Linked DNA regions of Homo sapiens: region 1 is reported to be linked to region 2. Evidence: microRNA targets listed by miRTarBase, many of them from high-throughput screens and not tested one by one. Region 2 holds a microRNA gene; the other region holds the end of a gene's coding sequence.
What was found. Region 2 holds the annotated microRNA hsa-miR-5571-5p (CAAUUCUCAAAGGAGCCUCCC, at 1,638-1,658, opposite strand). A microRNA usually pairs through its seed, bases 2 to 8, with sites in the 3' UTR of a target mRNA and lowers its output. Matches are read on the target gene's strand: a 7mer-m8 pairs with bases 2 to 8, a 7mer-A1 pairs with bases 2 to 7 and ends in A, and an 8mer does both.

Region 1: miRTarBase lists ZFP3 as a target of hsa-miR-5571-5p. Seed matches in the 3' UTR shown: 7mer-m8 at 195-201.

The regions. Positions count from the first base shown.
Region 1 is chr17:5,092,582-5,095,716 of GRCh38, reverse strand. It overlaps ZFP3 (ZFP3 zinc finger protein), which reads right to left. Exons shown (of 2, transcript NM_153018.3): 2 at 1-3,135. The coding sequence ends at 2,704. Among named protein-coding and RNA genes, the nearest start is that of ZFP3, 16 kb to the right of the region's middle.
Region 2 is chr22:22,884,814-22,887,948 of GRCh38, reverse strand. MIR5571 (microRNA 5571) reads right to left here and starts at 1,682; the gene lies at 1,570-1,682. IGLL5 (immunoglobulin lambda like polypeptide 5) reads right to left here and starts at 133. Exons shown (of 3, transcript NM_001178126.2): 1 at 1-133. It also overlaps IGL.

The DNA of each region.
Region 1 (3,135 bases), not on the chromosome of region 2:
GAGCCTTGAGAGGGGAGGACAAGAGGAAAACCTTCATTGGTTTGGCCAGTAAGGTACTTCTGAGAACAAAATGTCTAATAGGATGCACAATGTGAACTCTTCTCCTTTGCTTACACACTATCTTCAGTGAAGTCCATATTGCTCAGGGGTGTTTGTGTGCATAGATTGTTTAGGAGAAGCTTGAAGGGGTGCCAAATTCTCTGTCAGGGCTGACAAGAGGTAAATGTGGAAATAAAATATGCAAACACGGGAATCAGGCATGGAAGGGATAGGTGAGATCCAGGTTTCATGTGAGAAAGATACGGTCTGGGCACAATTCAATTTGTGCTCCAGCAATGAAAAAGGAATAAGACGGCGCACTTCACTTGTAATCAACCTAAGGGAAGAAGTAAATCAAACAACTTCCCTTACTAAGAGTGTGACTGCTAGAGGCAGAGGTATCTGGAAGGATGTGGAAACTCTGCAATCATCTATTTGTACAACCCTTTTCTCAAGCCAAGGATATAAACCTGGGAAGACACCTATATTGGAGTACAGAATAAACCCATTTGGTGAATTTTTTTTGGCTGTGATCAGTTCTGTTACCAAGGACATGATTTAAATTTGTTATATTCAAATCTACATAGAAATCAGTAATAGAAACTGTGCAAAGGGTTTCAGATAAGGCAGTAATGAATCTGCCTACCTGCGGCATAGCACAGTGGTTAAGAGCATCAACCAGGTTTGGAGTCTTGGCTGTCGCTCTTACTAGCTGTGGAATCATGGGTCAATTACTTAACACTGCCCCTTCTTATCTTTTAAATTGGGGTAAGAATACCCACATCATTGATGGTTGCACCACTATGTAAATTAAAAATCATTCAACTGAACACTTAAAACAGGTGAATTTTATAGTACGTAAATTATACCTTCATAAAGCTTTAAAAAAATGAGTACCCACATCATAGAAATGATGTGAAAATTAAAATGTAAACTGGCACTCTGCCTGTCAGGTAGTAAACACTCAATAAATATTAGTGACTAATATTAGTGTAACAAAGATGAGGTTAAAGAATAATAAAGATATATAAAGTTAAATTTTTAAAGAATTAAGGAATTATCGGGCTGGTTGAAACTTTTGAGATCACTTAGTTCAACTCTTTCATTTTACAGAGGAGAAAATTGGAGACCAGCAGGTGAAGTGCCTTGTTCAAGGTCTAGCGCTAAGACCAGCCCCCAGGCCTGTTGGGCCCCCATTAGTGCAATTCCCACTGTCACCCACGGCCTCAGAAACATGGACACATGGAAAATGTAGGCTGTTTCCTTGGAGAAGAAATAAATACAGAACACAAAAAACATGCAGACATAGCGAAGAAAGAATTTCAAGGCCGGGCATGGTAGCTCACACCTGTAATCTCAATACTTTGGGAAGTTGAGGCAAAAAGATTGCTGGAGCCCAGGCATTCAAGACCAGCCTGGGCAACATAGCAAGACTTTATCTCTATTTTTTTAAAGTTATTCAAGAAAAAAGAATTTCAAGGCCAAGGGGCAAAACCAAGAAGAGGCTACGACATCCTGACTTAGCCAGGGCCTCCAGTGCGGTCCAGGTCATGAGAACTTAAGTGCTTTGGCAAGGCCAGACCCTGGTTTGTCATCAGGTGAACTGACTCATCACTGTAGCCAGGTGCCCGGAGGAGGTGAAGCCACAGTCCTGTCTGCTACTTACTGTCACAATATCTGTCAGCAGTGGCAGGAGATGGGGCTAAAAATATATGCAGCAGAATTCTTAGGAGCAGTCAGTCTGAGCACCCCTGAAGTGTGGACAGCTCCTGAAGAGCTGCTTCTGCCCATGCCGAGCAGTGTGACCTCAATTGTTTATCCCCTGGTGTTGCCTAATCGGCCCCTCTGGATTCTAAGGCCTTCACTTATAATCCCGTTGTAAATTGCCTGTCAGTTCCTCCATCATGGCAGCCTCTTCAGATGAATAAGGAAGCCTGACAGATGTGAAATGAGCCTGCTTCTTCATTAATGCTGCCATCTTCTAAAGTAACTTCATAGCAGGGCTGGACGACTTTGAAGCTAATAACAGCTTACTAAATTATTCCAATGCTAAACAGTGGACAGGAGAATGAGGTGTGTCTTCTAAATTATGACTTTCTAATATTTCAGGGGGTAACAGTCAATGAGTCAACTCTCATTCTTAGGAGGTGGTGGAATCCTGTTCCCACAATTTTGCTGAAGAGTAATTTAGGAAAGATGGCTGGTACAGACCCTTAATGTTTGTTATGTGATCCACTGGGGGAGGAGAAGGGGAAGGAAGGACAGAGGGGAAATTAAGGCCTGAAAGAGCTTTTATGATTTAACTTAGCACACTGAAACCTCTCAATGAATAATTCATAAAAGTGCCTCATTAGTGCCTGCAGTCCTAGCTATTTGGAAGGCTGAGGCAGGAGGACTGTTTGAGCCCAGGAGTTCAAGGAAGCAGTGAGTTACGACTGTGCCACTGCATCCCATCCTGGGCAACAGAGCAAGACCCCAATGCTTAAAAAAAAAAAAAAAAAAGTGCCTCATCTTCTTCAACCAACTATTTAAAATCAGTGGGAGGACAGAGGAGGTTCTGTCCATTCATTGGATTTGAATACTTGGGGTGCATATTTGCATATTATGAACAAATGAATAAGTTGGACTTTAGCTTTTCCACTAAAAGCTTTCCTATTTTGCAGATTACTCCATACAGTGAACACTTTGATGTCGGAGGAGGTGAGAGCTCCGACTAAAAGTCTTCTGACATTCTTGGCACTCATAAGGCTTCTCTCCAGTGTGAATTCTCTGATGTATGATAAGTTGGGAATGCTGGCTAAATGTTTTCTCACACTCGCTACATTCATAAGGTTTCTCTCCAATATGAATTTTCTGGTGGAGAAGCAGCTCAGAATTATCCCAAAAGGTTCTTGCACACTCATTACATTGATGGGGTTTCTCTCCAGTATGAATTCTCTGGTGGACAATAAGGTGAGAGGTCCGCCTGAAAGCCTTTCCACACTCAAAGCATTCATAGGGTTTCTCTCCAGTGTGAATTCTCTCATGTCTAAGAAGTTCTGAGTTCCCCCTGAAGGCCTTCCCACATTCCTTACATACATAGGGCTTCTCACCAGT
Region 2 (3,135 bases):
GTCCATTGGCTCTGTCCTCTCCCTGGACTGGCTCTGGTCCCTGTCCCTAGCCCAGGCCCTTCCAGGGTCCATGGCTGTCACCCCTGGGGATCTCTCCCAGAGGGGCATCTACCAACTGCCCTGAAGCGGTCACAATCCAGGGCTCAACTGCCTCCCACCACAGCCGGCTGCCTGGCCCCGCCCCTGGGTGGTGCACACCTGACCCACTTGTCTTCCCCACTTCCCAAAGGGCAGCCTGGGTCTGTGGAGCATCTCCCTAGGGCCTAGAGAGCTGCCCAGCAGGAGTCCCCAAGGGCTTGAGCTCAGGGGGTTGGGGCTGGGGCTGGAGCTGTGGCTTCTTTTCTGATCAGTCTTCCAGGCTGGGTGCCTGTACACTGCACTCCAGCCAGTTGGGACCAGCCCTTTCTTGGCTGGGTTGGTTAAGCCTGGCTGGCTATCCTGTGGCCCTTTCCTGAGTCAGGCAAGAGCCCTGCAGGGAGTGATTCTATATCCTTCAGGCAAGGAAGAGTGGTGAAGTCATAAATGTGGAGTCTATCTAGACCTAGGTTACCTCTGGGCCTCAGTTTCCTTATCTGTAAAATGGGGAGAGTTCCTCTGCAGCATGAAGCTTATGAGAGTTAAAGAAACCATGTGTTTGCTAAGCACTCAGTGGGTGTTGAATAAATTCTGGTTCTTTTTTTGTTCTTCTCTTACTTTGGGATTCACAACTACTTGTGGGGTGTCCTTGGGGCCAGTGTCTCTGTTTTACAGGTGAGAAAATTACCATCCAGAGAAGATGAATGCAGGGTCCAATATCATTCCTTAAGTAGGGAGCAAGCTGCGCTAGGATCTAGGAAGGGGCTCGTCCCCTGTATTTCTATTCGTCTGTCCACCTGGAATACTCGTGCCTGGCTCCATTCGGCAGTGGTGGAGGAGGAGAGGGCTGGCAGGTGCTTTAAGTTGGGGTCCTTTTTGACTATAATATGGGAATATGATGCATAATACAATAATAATGCATTACATTATTATTGCTTTACAAGCACTAATCCTGGGAGCTAAGATCATCTACTGTCCTCCACATTTGAAGATGAGGAAATGCTGCTCAGGCTGATTCCCTACTCTTTTAATGTCACAGGGCCAAGAGGCAGTAGGTCTGGAGTCGGAATCTGAGGCCTGGTCCTTGCATGACACTAGGGCGTGCTTTGCTGATGATGACATGGCTCTCTGGGTCTAGGTGGTAACACACTGCTTGGTGCATGGGAAAACCCAGAGCTTGGCACAAAGGAGTGGCTCAATTAAACATGGACTAAATCTGGTTGAATAAACCTCTTTTGCTTCATGTGACCCCTTGTGTCATTTGCACTCCTTTACGCCCCATTCATCGCTCCCATCTTTTCTGTTGCCCTGAGAGCCTAGTATAAAAATGTTTGAGGAGATCTTCAGGACCCCATACTCTGGTGAGAAAGGCCCCTGCTCTGCCCCCTTACATTACAGAACTGCAATGAGGGTCTGCCCTCTTGCTTTCCAGTTTCTTTTTCTGCCACAAAATCTTTAAAAATATCTGCTCAAGTTCAGATCTGCAGCCCTCTAGGACTCTCAATGTTTTGTTTTAGCAACTCTCAGAGGAGCCTCCTAGGACTTCCTAAAGTGAATTTCCTGGGAGGCTCCTTTGAGAATTGCTTGGTTCACATTTTGTGTCAGATACTCCTTAACTTCCTTGATACATTTGGTGACAATCAAGCCAGACATTTTTGTGGGCTATGGTAACAGACAAATAGCCTGAGACTTCATTTCATTGATAAAGTTGATGGTTGTTGGGAGACAGTGGTCTACTATGGATCTCTGCATTTCTGCATGTCTCTCGGGCAAAGGCACTGATTGTGGATTATCTTTTCAAGAGTGTTTGTGGAGTGAACAACCTCGGAAGGTACAGAGAATGCCTCTCTTTGGAGCAAAACACAGATATATGCTTACTGTCAAGTATGAAATATTTGGGATCCCTGAGCTCTGGCATGCAGATGTCACCTGGCCCTCTTTGCATCACCTTGTGGAACTGGTGCAAGACAATGCTGATACCTTGGCAACTGCTATTGCTGTGAAAAACAGATTATTCGTTGTCTCTGACCCAGGAGTCTTGTATCTTCTGCCAGCATCCATGGCACTGTGGCAGGCTTACTTTTTAGTCTGCAAATAGGATGAAGTCTCAGACTCTTAACAGTTCTTGAAGGTGATGATAATGAGGAGGAGGAGGAAGAAAGAGATGAAGTTGAGGATGGTGATCATGACTTAATGGTTCGACTCATCGAATCGGTTTTCAAAGATCTCCAGGCTGGATCTTTATACACATTGCTTGGGTAACTTTTGAGGACCAGGTGCTGGGGGCTGGATTATACAAATAATCACCACACATCCCTGTCCTTCAAAATAGGCAAGGCACTGAGCAGTAACAGGGTGTAGGTGCCCTAACAGACATCATTCAGGGCACAAGGGAGGGCCCTGGGAAACCCCTGGTCCAGCACAGCTTCTCCACTGGGGAGCTTGGCCTATTCCTGCCTCTGATCTTGGGCTCCTTGGATATTCGGGGCTGGGGCAGGGTCTGCCCTGGGAGTCTAGGCTGAAGCTGCTCCCTTCCAGCCCCTCTGTGGGTATGACACTCACCCACTGCTCAGGACCCAGAAGCTGTGGTTCCTTTCAGGGACAGTCCCAGGTCTTGGGGATAAAAAGGGGCTGTCCCTAAATGTAGCATCCCCAGCTGCTGCCCCTACCCCCACCCTTGCACCTGCCATGGCCTCTGGATAGACATCGTCACCGCAGACCACATCCTTCCATGGTGGCTGCAGTCGGAAATCCGAGTCTGTCTGGGGACCCTGGAGGACTGGACTAGGCCTCCCCAGCAGGTGCAGCTGCAGCTCTGGCCACCCAGGCCTATCCCCTGCCCTGAGATGTGCAAGGGCTGGATCCAGGCCTGGGCAGAAGCAGCCAAGTCCAGCTGTCCTGTTTGGCAGACCCCCTGCTGAGGGTCTGTGGTGCCTCTGCAGAGCTCTCTGGGTCCCGCCCTGGCCCTTCTCTCCCAAAGCAGAGGGATGTACCCCATCCAGTTGCTTCTGCCCTGCTCCATGTCTGAGGGTATCCCCCACCTTGGCCTTCTGCTGGTCA